Linked DNA regions of Homo sapiens. The protein of the gene in region 1 purifies or fractionates together with the protein of each later gene. This does not show direct contact. Each region holds a gene or a part of one and is shown on either strand. Other genes may lie near its edges.

The links. Proteins that work in one complex are often made in the same cells at the same time.
Region 2: the proteins of SENP6 (region 1) and ZDBF2 purify together in Homo sapiens (affinity purification with mass spectrometry; 2 studies listed by BioGRID and IntAct, with this or other methods). This does not show direct contact.

What each region holds. Positions count from the first base shown.
Region 1 is NC_000006.12:75,604,880-75,611,879, forward strand, and holds part of SENP6 (sentrin-specific protease 6), read left to right. Parts: intron 1-7,000.
Region 2 is NC_000002.12:206,290,671-206,299,268, forward strand, and holds part of ZDBF2 (DBF4-type zinc finger-containing protein 2), read left to right. Parts: intron 1-1,340; exon of another isoform or gene 1,341-1,392; coding exon of another isoform or gene 1,393-1,446; intron 1,447-6,575; coding exon 6,576-6,703; intron 6,704-8,598.

The DNA of each region.
Region 1 (7,000 bases):
CTGGCCAACATGGTGAAACCCCGTCTCTACTAAAAATACAGAAATTAGTCTGGCGTGGTGGCGCGCGCCTGTAATCCCAACTACTCGGGAGGCTGAGGCAGGAGAATCACCTGAACCCAGGAGCTGGAGGTTGCAGTGAGCCGAGATCGCACCATTCGCACTCCAGCCTGGGCGAGGAGCGAAACTACATCTCAAATAATAATAAAATATTCCACCATAATTTGCTGCATATTTTGTATTACCAGGTTTATAAGTGTTCAAAATATTTCCCCATACATAGGCTCCTAGGATTTAATATTAAGACATCTACATATTACACTTTCTTTACTTTCCAGTCGAGTCCTTGAAAAACTAAACTAGGTTTTCATTTGCTCATCACATTTACAGCATCCTACTCTAACAGTCAGTGTACCACGGTGAAGTGCATAAGAGAGTCAAGGACTCTGCCTTTATTTAGTCTTCTGTCTTAGGTTCTGTGAAAGCATATCTCTGTAATAAACTGTGAAAAAGTAATGACTTTTTTTTCACCATCATATTTCTTGCACCTGAAACATATTTGTTGTTAATGAAATAAACCAGATGATAAACAGTATGATAAATACGGAAGACATAAACAGCAATGATGGGGAAGCCATTTTACATAGCATTGAAGTCAAGAAAGGCATCCCTGAGGAGGTTACACTTAATTAAGTAAACACCTTAACTAAGAGACACTTCAGAATATGGCAGAGGGGATGCGTGTAAAGATTGATTTGATAAACAAAAAGGCTGAAATGTAGAAAGCAAAGGAGAGAGTGATATGAGAGGCAGGAGATCTTTCATGCAGGATCATGAATAATTTTTATATCTTTCTCAGCGGGAAGCCATTGACGAGTTTGGCGCAAGGGGGTGTAATGATATGGTTTATCTTTTTTTAAAAAAAAGTTTGGCTGCTTTTTGTGGAATTAATTAGGGGGCAAGATTAAAAGCAAGACAATAAATTAGGATAATATTGTAGTAGTCAAGGTAGAAGTGGTCGGGGCTTCAATTAGCATGATGTCAGTGGAGACTGGGGAAGAGAAGTTGATAGGTTGAGGATATGTTTGGATGTAGAGCTTACAGGACTTGATGAACTGTACATTGAGTGTCAGAATAAGAGGAATCAAAAGGTTTTGTTTAGCCTGAGGTATTAGTGGTACTGCCATTTACTGAGATGGAGTAGACTGATAGAAGAATGAGAAGGAAATTAACAACACTGGTCATACTAAATTTGAGATGCCTGTTTGACATTTTTGCTCTGAAGTATGTTTTATATCTTTATAACTACTAAGATTCTAATTCCATTTCTTTTTATAGCTTCTGTAGGGAAAAGGAGACCTACTGGTTGTCTTTATTTATACAAAAGCACACTAAAATTGTATGGATTTCATTAAGCCACAGCTTGTGTTAAAATTTTCTACTCTCCTCTCCCCTCTTTGACTTGTTTCTTTCACTTCTCTTCACTAACTGTTGCTCATAACCCCTTTTCCACTTATGATAGACAGTTTTGGCAGGTTGCTCCCCTGTATTTATTCAGTCAACAGATACTTATTGAACACCTACTATGTTGTAGGCAATGACACTGCACTGAGAGGCATAACAGTGAGGGAGAAGAAACCATGTTTTTTTCATAGAGTGTTCAGTCTAGTGAGGAAAGTAAAAAATAATAAAATAATACTTTTAAATGTAAAATTACAACTGACAAGTACAGCAATCAGTGGTGGATTGTTTATACAAGTTGAACATCCCAAATTTAGAAATCCAAAATCCTCCAGAATTTGAAGCAACATGACCCCCCTAAGAAATGCTCATTGAATCAATTCAGATTTTTGGATTTGGGATGCTCAGTTGGGATAATATAATAAAATTTGCAAATATTCCAAAATCCAAAAAAAAAATCTGAAATCTGAAACATTTCTTCTAGTTTCAAGCATTTCGGATAAGGGACACTTAACCTGAAATCATGAGAATTGGATCTAATCAGGGTGGTTTGAAGTGGGTATTAGAGAACAGAAGGTAGAGAGGCAGTGCTTTCTAGGTAGAGAGAGTAAAATAGGGGAGCATGGCATGTTTGGGGAACTTAAGGGAGGACAATAATGGTGTCAGATAGGAGAGCGGTGCAAGATGATACTGGAGGTGACATCACATTTATTTCAAACAAGGTCAATAGCCGGGCATGGTGGCTCACGCCTGTAATCCCAGCATTTTGGGAGGCCAAGTTGAGAGGATTGCTTGAGCCCAGGAGTTGGAGACCAGCCTGAGCAACATAGTGAGCCCGTGTCTGTACAAAAACATAAAAAAATGATATGGGAGGATTCTTGAGCCCAGGAGGGCGAGGCTGCAGTGAGCCATGATCGTACCACTGCATTCCCACCTGGGAGTACAGAGCGAGACCCTGCCACCCAAAAAAAAAAAGGTCATCAGCTGCTACATGGAGAGAGCTTCAGAGAGGGGCAGCAGATTATCCAGTTAGGAGATGATTGGAATAGAGGACAAAGGTGATTGATGGTGGCTAGCTTGTTCCTATAAACTTTCTTTTGATATTCTACCTTTTCTTTTTTTCACTCTGGGGGCTCTAACAAGCCTACCTACTCTCTTATACATTTCTTCATTTTTGTACTGCACTTGTTCATATCTAGTTTTCTTTTCCTTTTTTTTTTAACCAAGTGAATTCCTTCTCCTATATTTTCTCCCGTTTTTCCTGAAGTAACTTTTTTCTGCCTTCCTTTCTAATATACATATACTACTACTTTAGTTTGTTTTCCTTTTCATTTCAGCCTGTCTTCCTTTATGGACCTTGTCTACTAGGTTGAAAAGAGTGATGCTAAACTGTTGCATGCAATGTTGTTCTCTACAGATACCAGCAAAAATGCTTCTGTCTCCAAATGAAAAGTGTTTTCCATTTCGCCTTAGCCAGTCTTTTATGTTATATATAAACTCATTGCAGAACCCAATCAGTTTGCCAGTTTTACTGGAGACCGTAAATACCTAACACTGTCTGTTGAACTAGAGCACAGCTTCTCCCAAACGATTGGCATTCCATGGAATATGAACAGGGTTTCTAGTTTCTGCCTACTTAGGGGAATACACCTCTTTTTCTTTTGATTGCATTACTTTTGGAAACTACATCATGGTGTCATTCCTTATTTACTCCTTACTTAAGTATGTTTATTTCCTGATTTCATCCCAGTTAAAGTGATAAATTCTGTTTATCATGTGAGTTCATGTACTTGAAACAGTAAAGTAGAACCTCACTTGGAATGAAAGTGATTTTCAGGCAAAGTTTAGTGGGTCATACCTGTTATCCTGAGATAACACTTCGGGAGGCCAAGGCAGGAGGATTGCTTGAGCCCAGGAGTTCAAGACCAGCCTGGGCAACATAACGAGGCCCCATCTCTGCAAAAAATACAAAAATTAACCGGATGTCACAGCATGCACCCAAAGTCCCAGGAATTCAGGAGGCTGAGGTGGGAGGATTGCTTGTTGCTCGAGCCCAGGAGGTTGAGGCTGCAATTCATGACACTGCACTTCAGCCTGGGTGACAGAGCTGAGAAGAAAGAAAGAAAAAAGAGAGGGAGGGAGAAAGAAAGAAGAGGAAAAAGAGGAAAGGAGGAAGGAAAGAAAGAAGGAAAGAGAGGAAGGAAAGAAAGGAAGAAAGAAAGGAAGGAGAAAAGAAAGTGATTTTCGCTAGAAATGCATTGAGAATATGAACTCAAAAGTCAGAATGCTGAGGTTCAACATCTGGCTTTACTACTTGTTAGCTATGTGATCTTGGATAGATTACTTAACTTCTCTGTTTTCTCAGCTATATAACAAGGGTAATAATTGTCGTTAAAAATAATAATTGTAGTTACCTTATAAGATTGCCATGAGGATTGAGGAAATATATATTACTTAAAGCAATTCCAGGCATATAATAAGCACTCCGTGTTACTTGATATTATTTATTTTATTAGCAGATAGAGAAAAGAAAAAGAGCTTCCTTTACTTGCTTGTCTTCTCTTCTATTTGAATTTTAGTTTGCATTGTTTTTCTTTCACTGACTACCTTTTTCTAGATATTAGCTGATTTTGACCAGTGTTGTAATGAGAGAGGAAAGAGAATGAAATTACATACTTTGTATGTCTAGACTTTCATAAATTGATTATTCCTGTTGCTATTAGAAAAGTATGTTGAATATTTGAGGAACTTGAGGTATAGAAGGGTTGTTTGGCACAGCTTAAGTTATTGGGGAAGTCAGACTGTAGCCTGGGACCCGACTTAATAGCTTCAGCTTTCTTCAGCATTTCCTTCCTCTCCCTTTCTCCCCGCTTCCTCATCACTTTGCTTCCCTATTCTTACTCTTACCTCTTTTTCCTGTACCTCCCCCCAAAGGAAGGGGCGACTGAACAAGAGAAGGAAAAATAATAAGTTATTATGGAGAAGTATTATTTATTGATGAAGCAGCACTTTTAAGAGGGCAAAAATGGAAAGCCACAAATCTCTTGAGGCCCAACTTCAGAAATTTACAGTGTTAACGTCTTCCACATTGTATTGGCCAAAAGAATACAGAGCCAGCCCTGATTGAAGGGGAGAGGGAGTAGATTCCACCCTTCAGTGGGAAGAATGACAAATAATTTGCAGCTATCTTTAATCTATACAGCCATCTTTTCTCTCCCATACCTACCTGGTATTTTTTCCCCATTCTTTCAACAGTCAAAGTATTTTTCAACAGTCATGTGGTATTTTAAATGACAATTCTTATGAAACCCAAAATCCAACTTTTGGACAGTTTGGGAAGCTAAAGAAAGACAAAACAAAATGGGCAACTTAATTAGTAATTTATTTCAAAGATATAAATAGCATAGAAACAGTCATTAGTTTAATGTTTTGTTTTTGTTTTTGTTTTTTGAGATGGAGTAGATGGAGTCTCGGCTCCGTTGCCCAGGCTGGAGTGTAGTGGCGCCATCTCAGCTCACTGGCTGACTGCAACCTCTGCCTTCCAGGTTCAAGCAATTCTGCTTCCTCAGCCTCCCTAGTAGCTGGGATTACAGGCGCATACCACCATGCCTGACTAATTTTTGTATTTTTAGTAGAGATGGGGTTTCTCCATGTTGTCCAGGCTGGTCTCAAACTCCTGACCTCAAGTGATCCACCTACTTCAGCCTCCCAGAGTGCTGGGATTAGAAGTGTGAGTCACCGCACCTGGCCTTAGTTTAACTTCTAGTTGATTGGGAATGGATTCAGGAATTTCTGAAACTAGGCAAGCATAAGTATGGACAAAAGAGGAAGAATGTTAGAAACTTTTCCTTCCTTTTGTTTTTTCTTTCATTTAGTGATGCCTGGGTCTTGCTCTCATTTTCATTACTTAAGCTCTTAGAAATGGTCATACTATTCACGATACTAAAAGTAAAACAGTATCTTGATATAAAATGCCAGTTAATCCACTAAGTCACAGACTGTTAATGCTCACAGTTACAGCACACTTAAGTTGTATACCTAAGTCATATTACTTAGAATGATGCAACAATGGATAATCCATTATTGTGAACTGCAAATGATGGTTGCCATCATCAGGTAATAAAACAATGGCTACAGTTACAGAAAGTGATAGATAATCTGTGCCATATCCATTTGACACTAAAAACAGGGTTGTTTTTGGACCCTAATTTTTTTTGTCTACCTTAGGGTTTTGTACTTCCCAGAATCTTCTGCATCCATTGGCAAAAATTATTAACTATTATCTTCAGAGTATATGGGGCTTTCAGTGCTAAAATTGGGATAGTCCCAGGCACACTGGGATGTTTGGACACTCTGCCTTGTCCTAGTTTAACAACAGCTACCTTGAAGCCATCTGAAATCAGCCTGGAGTAGTATGAAAACAGCTATGTTCTGATCTTGCCTTTGGAGGTTGTTTTTGTTTGTTTTGTTTGGGGGTGGGGTGAGGGAGGAGTTGCTATATCAAATACATTTTATAGTTTTTGAAGATGCGTTTTTTCCCCCTCCCAAATTCACTGCATTACAGTTTTTGAAACAGAACGGGAGAAAAAAAATAACAAACAGTGCTGGCATCCAATAGATGGTAAATTCACTTTTCATTTTTAATAAAGAGTGGACGACGAGGAACTAGAAATTCTCCTAGGCTTGGAGAATTTAAACTGTTTAGTAACCTTGTTGTTTCATATATTCAAAAATCTACAACTTTCTACCTTCATAACCTCCTACTTATGAATCAAGAACTAAATTCTGGAGACAAGATGAAGGTACTACTTAACTACCATGACCCCTGCTGACTCTGCTTCTGTGGAAACCAATAACTTCTCTTTCTTCATAACCCCAGTGGTCACTATTTGAATGAAGTGGGATTCCAAACATTTTGGCATTCAGTCTTCTGTTTTCAGCCCAGGTTGGTTTTCATTTTTTAACCACAGGAGATATAAAAGAATGATTTAGTAAATCATAATAGCAGTTAAGTCTGAAGCTGTTCATCAGCTTCTCCTTCACAAGTTTGGGTATCAGCTCCTCAGTCTCTTTTGCTTTCACCATTTACAGGCTTCACTTATTTCTTGAGTCTCTGTTAATTTAAGCTTTTAATGAAACTGTGCATCTTCCTGAATTACGTGTTTGCACTTTCAAAGTTAAAGTGTTTCTCAAATTTCATTGGTCTGTCTCACAGAATACTGAATTCCCTGACACTTTGATGATCCTCTCACTTTAAAGCATAAGGAACATTTGGAACTACTTATCTCATGCAGTCATTTCTCGGTTTAATTTCTGGCTTTAGAAGTTTGTGTGCTTCAGCTTGAGATAAGTGTATTTTTAAGAGATTGTGTATTCTGTGTAAAGGTAGCGCCAACTGCACTGCTTTGGAATAGGTATCATTGCTAGACTTTTTCATTCCATAGAAAGTTAAGGAGTTTCCAGCAACACCTGTAGCACTAAACTGCTGCCTGACTAACGAACTGAACTGACTATGCTATCATCTTGCTGAAAGGTACATAGA
Region 2 (8,598 bases), on another chromosome or scaffold:
TTCAATAGATTTTTAAATATTGATCTTGTATCATACAACCTTGCTGACCTTGTTTATTAATGCTAATAATTTTTTTTGTAGATTCCTTAGGATTTTCTATGTACTACATTATGTTCTCTCCAAATAGTTTTACTACTTTTTTCCCCAATCTGGATGCCATTATTTCTTTTTCTTGCCTAATTGCTCTTGCTAGAATTTCTAGTATGATGAGTGTTAAAGTAGTGAGAATGGATATCCTTGGTTTTTTTTGGATCTTGGGAGAAAACTTTCAGTCTTTCATCATTAAGTTTGATGTTAGTTGTGGGTTTTAGCCTAATTTGCTAAGTGTTTAATCATGAAAGGGTATAGGCTTTTGTCAAATGCTTTTCTGCAACTATTAGATGTATGTGTTTTTTTCCTTTAGTCTATTAATGTAATATATTACAGTATTCATCAGCTCAGGCTGCCATAATAAAATACGATAGACTAGGTAGCTTAAATCAGCGGTCCTCAACCTTTTTGGCACCAGGGACTGGTTTCGTGGAAGACAATTTTTCCACAGATGGGGTGGAGGGGTGGTTTTGGGATTTAACTGTTCCACCTCAGATCATCAGGCATTAGATTCTCAAAAGGAGCACGCAACCTAGATCCCTTGCATGCACAGTTCACAATAGAGTTTACGCTCCTATGAGGATCTAATGCCTCCACTGATCTGACAGGAGGTGAAGCTCAGGTGGAAACGCTTGCTTGCCTGCCGCTCACCTCCTGCTCTGTGGCCCAGTTCCTAGCAGGCCACAGACCAATACCTAACAGCCCTTCTCACTGTGTCCTCCTGTAGCAGAGGGAGACGGCGATTTCTCTTCCTATTTTATAAGGCCGCCAATCCTATTGAAGATGTCGCTACTGTTAGGACTTCATTTAACCTAAATTACCTCCTAAAAGCCCTGTCTCCAAATATTAGGGGTTAGAACCTTAACATGTGAATTTTGGGGGGATGTAGTTCAACCTATAGCAGTTAGATTGATTGGTTTTCAGATGTTAAACTTATTTTGCATCTGTGGGATAAATCCCACTTGGTCATGGTGTATAATCCTTTTTATATGTTGCTGGATTTGGTTTGCTATTAATAATATTTTGTTGACAATGTTTGCAGCCTTGTATTTCAAGGCTTTGGAGAACTGTAAAAGCAGTGAAGTAATATGGGGCCCATATCTAGTGAAGTATTTAACAGAAACAATGGAAGCCAAAAGAAAGAAAACAACTGCCACCTAGAATTCTCTACTCAATACGTATATCTTTTAATAAGGAAGGTGAAATAAAACTATTTTCAGGAAATAAAAATTAAGGGAATTTGTCACCAGCAGACTCTCACTAAAGGAAAAACTAAAAAGGAGTTCTTCAGGCAGAAGGAAAATGATTCCCGATGGAAGCTCAGAGATACAGGAAGTAATGAAGAACAGTGGAAAGGTAAATATGTAGGCAATCAATCTAAGTGAATACTGTCTTGTGGGATGAACAACAATGGCATATAAATTGGGAGGGGAGTAAATGATGTTAATTTCTAAGGACTTTGCATTGTTTATAAAGAGAATAAAAGTAACAAGTAATTTTAGGCGTTGACAGTTCAGGGTTGCTCATTGTAATCTCTTACCAAAATAGACTATGAAAAGTCTGTAACTAACTACAGAGTTAACAGAAAAGGAAAAATTGAAATGATGAAACGTAGTCCACAAGAAGACAAGAAAGGAGAGGAAAAGGGATAGTTGTATAGGCAAGAGTAACAGATTGAAAAAGTTAAATACAACTCTATCAGTAATACATTAAGTGAAAATAGGTTTGATGCTTGAATTACAACTGTATTCAATATTTTGTCAGAGGTCCTAGTCAAAGAAATAAGGAAAGAAAAATAAAAATGATAAAGATTGGATAAGAAGAAATAAAACTATTATTTATACACAACATGATGGTGGACATAAAAACTAAAAAGATATCTAGATAAACCATTAGAATCAATAAGTGATTTTAAAAGGTTGTTACACTAATGTAAAAAGAAAGTGTATTTTTATATACAGATACCATGCAGAAAATGAGATAAAAAATCATTTACAATAGCATCAAAGAACATCAAAATCTAGGGAATAAACATAAGAAAATGTAAGATCTTTAAACTAGAAACTATAAACCTTGAAAGAAATTTTCATGTTCATGGATTGAAGAATCAATATTGTAAACATGTCAGTTCTGCCTAGATTGTTATATTTATCCAATGTAATTTCAATCAAAATCTCAGAGAAGTATTTTTTTTTAATGAAAAGCCAATTCCAAAAATAAATGTGGGAAAGTAAAAGGCTCAGAAGAACTAGGATAATCTTAAGAACAAAGTGAATAGATGTCCTCTATCAGATACTAAAACTTATGAAACTTTAGTCTTTAGTCTTTAAAATAGTGCAGTTTTGCTGCAGAGTTAGAAAGACCATGGAAAAAAACCAGGAATTCCAGAAACAGACACATTTATGGATGTCTGATTTGTGACAAAGGTGCTGCACAGCAGTGAGGACAGGACTTTCTTCAATAAATGATACTGGGTCAATTGAATATTCATATGGAGAGGAAAATGAAACTTTATTGCCGAATCACCCTGCATATAAAAATCAGTTAGAAGTAGACTATGATTTGGCTACATGTTGTAGCCAAAATAGTAAAGCTTCTAGAAACAGGAGAAAATCTCTATGACTTTGATGGTAAAGAGAGATTTCTGGCCACAAAAAGCACTGACAAAGAAAAAAAGATAAAACCGGACTGCAATAAAGTTAAACAATGGAAGATGATTAAGAAAGTGAAAAGAAGCTGCAGAGAGGAAGATGGTACTTGAAACACATATAATTGAGCAAAGAACTGGTGTCCTGAATAGGGAATTTCTACAAGTCCATAAGGAAGAGACAGAACATCCATTTGAAAAACAGAGAGACTTGAACAGACCCAATGTAAAAGAGGATATCCAGATGGCTAGTAAATATGAAAAGCTATTGCAAAAATTACAGATTAAGGCCACAGTGATATAACAATAAACATCCTTACAATAGCTAAAATTAAAGAGACTGACAATAGCAAGTGTTGATAAGGAGATAGGAATACTGCTGGTAGGGAATATAAATTTGTACAGCCACTTTGGAAGACTGGTCGGTAGGGAGTACTAAAGCTGAACATATGCAAATTTTATGACCCCGAAGTTTCACTCCTAATAATGCACTCAACAAAAATGCATGCACATTGGCACCAAAAGACACATACAAGAAGGTTCTTCATAGTATTATTAGTAATAGCCAAAAGCTAGAAACAACACAAATGTCCATCAAGAGTAGAATGAATAAATAAGATATGGCATATTCATACAATGAATATGCAGAAAAGAAAATGAACAGATTCAGCCAATATGTATGAATATCACATATATAATATTGAGTAAAATAAGCTGAATGCAATAGCATACATATTATATGACTCCATTTATATACATTTCAGAAAATTTCAAAACTATAGTATTAAAAGTTAGGTAATAGTTACTTTTGGGGAAAAGGGAAGGGATTGGGATGGGGCATTACAGGGATTTCTGGATGCTTGTCAACTTTTTATGGATAGATGGTAAGGATGTGTCTACTTTGTGATAGTTGATTGAGCTGTATGCATATGATTTGTGTACTTTATGTTATACATCAATTCAAAAAATCTAAAGGAACGGATACCTTATAGGATGTAAATGAAGTTTTCTATTCACATTGCTTTTTTCTTTTTGCCTTGGCAGAGAGAGGACAAGGTTGGATTTTAGTATTTATTTTTGTAATTTCAGCTTTTATTTTAGATTCGGGGGGACACATGTCCAGGCTTGTTACGTGGGTATGTTGTGTGATGCTGAGGTTTGGGGTACAAATGATCCCATCACCCAGCTAGTGAGCATAGTACCTGATAGGTAGTTTTTCGAGCCCTTTCCCCCTGCCCTGTCTCTCCTGACCCAGTGTCTCCCAGTGCCTTTTATTCCCATCTTTATGTCCACATGTACCTAATGTTTAGCTCCCACTTAAAAGTGAGAATATGTGGTATTTGGTTTTCTGTTCCTGTGTAAATTTGCTTAGGATGATGGCCTCCAGCTGTATCCATGTTGCTGCAAATGACATGATCTCATTTTTTATGGCTGTGTAGTATTCCATGATGTATATGTACCACATATTCTTTATTCAGTAACGTTGAATTTTAACTGAATATTTATTTGTTTCCTTGTGCATTTGTCCCCTTTAATCACCAGGCAGTCTAACTCTGGTGATGGGTCCTGGACAGTGGAGAGTTTCGTAGCAGGATTTTGAAAGCATCATAATTTAGATTGTTCCTGGGGCTAGGAGCACTAGCATGGACCTCTGAAGTCAACATGGAAGAAAATAATTCCAAGAGTTGTAACACAGTGGTCAGGAGCTAGCAACCTGATTTAAGTTCTTTAACACCTTTACCGTGATATTTTAAAATGTCTTTTCTAAGTATTGTTAAATTAAAATGCACTATTAAATTATAAATAACATGTTAGAAATATGCCATTTGCTATTTGCTAGCATAATACAATGAAAGAGGATAAGCTTCAGAGTTAGATTCAAATCCTGGCCTTGCTGTTTGCTCATTATAAAACTTTGGGCAGTTTACTCTAATTCTTTTTTTTTCTTTTCTTTTCTTTTTTTTTTTTTTTTTTGAGACAGAGCCTCACTCTGTCACCCAGGTTGGAGTGCAGTGATGCAGTCTCGGCTTACTGCAACCTCCGCCTCCAGGGTTCAAGCAATTCTCCTGCCTCAGCCTCCCAAGTAGCTAGGACTACAGGCGCGCAGCACCACCATGCCTGGGTAATTTTTATTTTTTTATTTTTTAGTAGAGACAGGGTTTCGTCTTGTTGGCCAGGCTGGTCTTAAACTCCTGACCTCAGGTGATCTGCCCACTGTAGACTCCCAAAGTGCTGGGATTACAGGCCTGAGCCACTGCGCCCAGCCCAGTTTACTCTAATTTTTTGTGCCTTAGTCTTTTCGTGCTAAATGGGGACGATATTCTTACTCAGTGAAAAGTCAATGAAGATTACTGTGTAAATGGAATAGCACTGTGTTTGGTACATCATAGGTGCCCCATAGGTAGACTTTTTCCCATTCTGCTTGCTACTCCACTAAATAATATTAGTAAAGAAAGAATCTTTCTAACTGTAGAGAGAGTTACAAGACTGAAAAATTTAGTGTATTTATTTTAATTTTGTGTTTAAGTTGGGATTTTTAATTTCTGAAAGAAAATAAAGGTACCTTTTTTGTCAATCTTTGACCTCTTTTAATACAATAATCCAACCCTGTTCTCTCTCTTAACAGATTTTCATTTTAAAAAACATTTACTCATTGAAAAATATAAGAATTTATAAGAAAAATTGAAAAATTACCCATAACTGCACCACACTGATATCTGTACTAGTAAGGTTTGGTGTACACTAGTCCCCCCTTATCTGTGGTTGGTTTCAGTTACAGCCAGATGTGGCTCGAAAATATTAAATGGAAAATTCCAGAAATAAATGGGCAAATAAATTGCATGTTATTCTGAGTAGCTTGATGAAATCCTTCGCTGCCACTCATTGTCCCACTCAGGACATGAATCATCCATTTGTCCAGCGTATTCCTGCTGTCTGCCCATTAGTCACTCAGTAGCTGTCTTGGTTATTAGATCAACTGTTGGATATCACAGTGCTTGTGTTCAAGTAACCCTTATTTTACTTTTATTACAGTATATTGTTATAATTGTTTTATTTCATTATCAGTTATTGTCATTAATCCCTTACTGTGTGTAGTTTATAAATTAATCTTTATCATAGGTATGTAAGGAAAAACATATATAGGTTTGGTACTATCCACCGTTTCAGGCATCCACTGGGGGTCTTGGAACAAATTCCCTGCGGATAATAGGGGACTACTGTAATTTCTTCCATTTACTTGTCTGTATGTTTTTAAACTGTAGTTTGACATGAAACCATACGTGTGGTTTTTGCATTCCTCATTTTTTTCTAAATCCAGCGCCATAGACTGCTCGGCCACACCACACTCATTTTTTCTTAATATGTAACGTTTCCCCATGTTATTAAAAATTTTCTAAATCCAGCACCTTAGACCACTCGGCCACACTACCACACTCATTTTTTCTTAATATGTAACGTTTCCCATGTTACTTAAAATTCTTTGTATTATTTTAGATAGCTGCATAGTATTACATCTTAGAGCCTATTATAATTGAAGTCTTTTACTGTTAGAAACTTAGGAGGTTTCCAGTTTTTTGTTATGCTATGATAATGGCATCTTTTTTGCATGAATCATTTACCTTTAAGACTATTTCCTTAGGCTGTACTTAGGGAAATCTCATTATTTTACCTAAGGGAAAGTAGTTTTATGGTTTTTAGATGCAAATTTCAGAATTGCTTTATAGAAAAGCTTTCAATTCATAATTTTACCAAGAGTATAGAAATGAATCCATTTTGTCGAACTCTCACTACTGAATACTGTCCATTTAAAAATATTCCATTTCTTTTTTCTTTATAGCATTTGTTCAGTGCTCAGCACAGGAGTTTGACCAGACAGAGTAGACGTCAAATATGTACCAGTAGTTTGATGGAACGTTTCTTACAGGATGTACTGCAGCACCACCCATATCATTGTCAAGAGAGCAGGTAAAGTAGTTGATTGGAATAATATTTATACGTAGTTATATGTTACAGTAGGTGTTTGTGTTCATGTCCCAATCAATACTTTAAGTGAATCTTTGAGTCAAGGAATATAAAGTAAAATTTTAGTAACTTTCATTTGCAATTTAAAATTTTTCTTAGCTGAAGTAAGAAATTTCACTACAGAAGATATGGACTACACTATGTTTTTTTCTAAATAAAAGTCTTAGGCTAATAATTATATATCATTAAGATGTTTTATAAGTATGTTATAGGATTAAGCAGGGGGAAAAGGAGGAAGAGATAGTTTTTTTTGTTTGTTTGTTTTTGAGATGGAGTTTCGCTCTTGTTGCCCAGGGTAGAGAGCAATGGCACGATCTCAGCTCACCGCAACCTCCACCACCCAGGTTCAAGCGATTCTCCTGCCTCAGCCTCCCGAGTAGCTGGGATTACAGGCATGTGTCACCACGCCTGGCTAATTTTTTGTATTTTTATTAGAGTTGAGGTTTCGCCATGTTGGTCAGGCTGGTCTCGAATTCCCGACCTCAGGTGATCCACCCGCCTTGGCCTCCCAAAGTGCTGAGATTACAGGCGTGAGCTACCACACCTGGCAAAATGGTTTTTAAAAGGTTAGCAACAGAAAAACTGGTGACAATAGCAGAGTAAGGACAATCAAGTCAAAACTGAGTCAAATCCACATTAATAGAACTCTTTGCTAATTCTGAGGAAAAGAGGTAGCCAAAAGAATTGGGTTTTTAAATCTGTCTGTATTTTGATAGCTTTTCTTGTATCCATTTGTTTTAGTTGTTTTTAATAAAAATAATTATTTTGATAACATTTAAGAGTTAATGCCCTATGTTAAAGAAAAACATTGGTAGAAAATCAGATTAAATATTATAATATGTTTGTAGCTCCCGCTGTACAAGATAAGGTAAAAATCGATCATTAGCACATCTGTGCAGTTAACTGAGATGTGCACCAGTTAGTAGAAAAAGGGATAAACTTCTTTGCCTTGCAAATCACTAACATAGACCTTAGAAATGGCAAAAATATTTTAATGGGGAAAAGTTAGAGGAAAACAAGATGGTTTCTTAGCTGGTGGGAAGATAGAATTAGCCTATCCTGGGGTCAGTATAAATTTCCAGGTTTTTTTTGTTTTTGTTTTTGTTTTTTGAGACGGAGTCTTGCTGTGTCACCCAGGCTGGACTGCAGTGACATGATCTCAACTCACTGCAACCCCCACCTCCCTGGTTCAAGCAATTCTCCCTGCCTTAGCCTCCCAAGTAGCTGGGATTACAGGCACCCGTCACCATGCCTGGCTAATTGTTTTGTATATTTAGTAGAGACTGGGTTTTGCCATGTTGGCCAGGCTGGTCTTGAACTCCTGACCCCAAGTGATCTGCCCACCTTGGCTTCCCAAAGTACTGGGATTACAGGAATGAGTCACCGTGCCCAGCTCCAATGTATAACTCTCATAAGCAGTGCTTCAGCAAACATGTTTTTACATGAATTTTTTTTTTCTTTTTTTTTTGAGACAGAGTCTCGGTCTGTTGGCCAGGCTGTAGTGCTATGGCACAATCTTGGCTCACTGCAACCTCCATCTCCGAGGCTCAAGCAATTCTCCTGCCTCAGCCTCTCGAGTGGCTGGGATTACAGGCATATGCCACCATGCCTGGCTAATTTTTGTATTTTTAGTAGAGACAGGGTTTCACCATGTTGGCCAGGCTGGTCTCGAACTCCCGACCTCAGGTAATCTGCCTGCCTCGCCCTCCCAAAGTGCTGGGATTACAGGCGTGAGCCAACACGCCCGGCCACATGCAACTATTTCTATGGTATAGCTTGCTAGAATTTGAAGTTCTGGGTCAGAGTTTACGGACCTTAAAAATTTTTTATTTTTATTT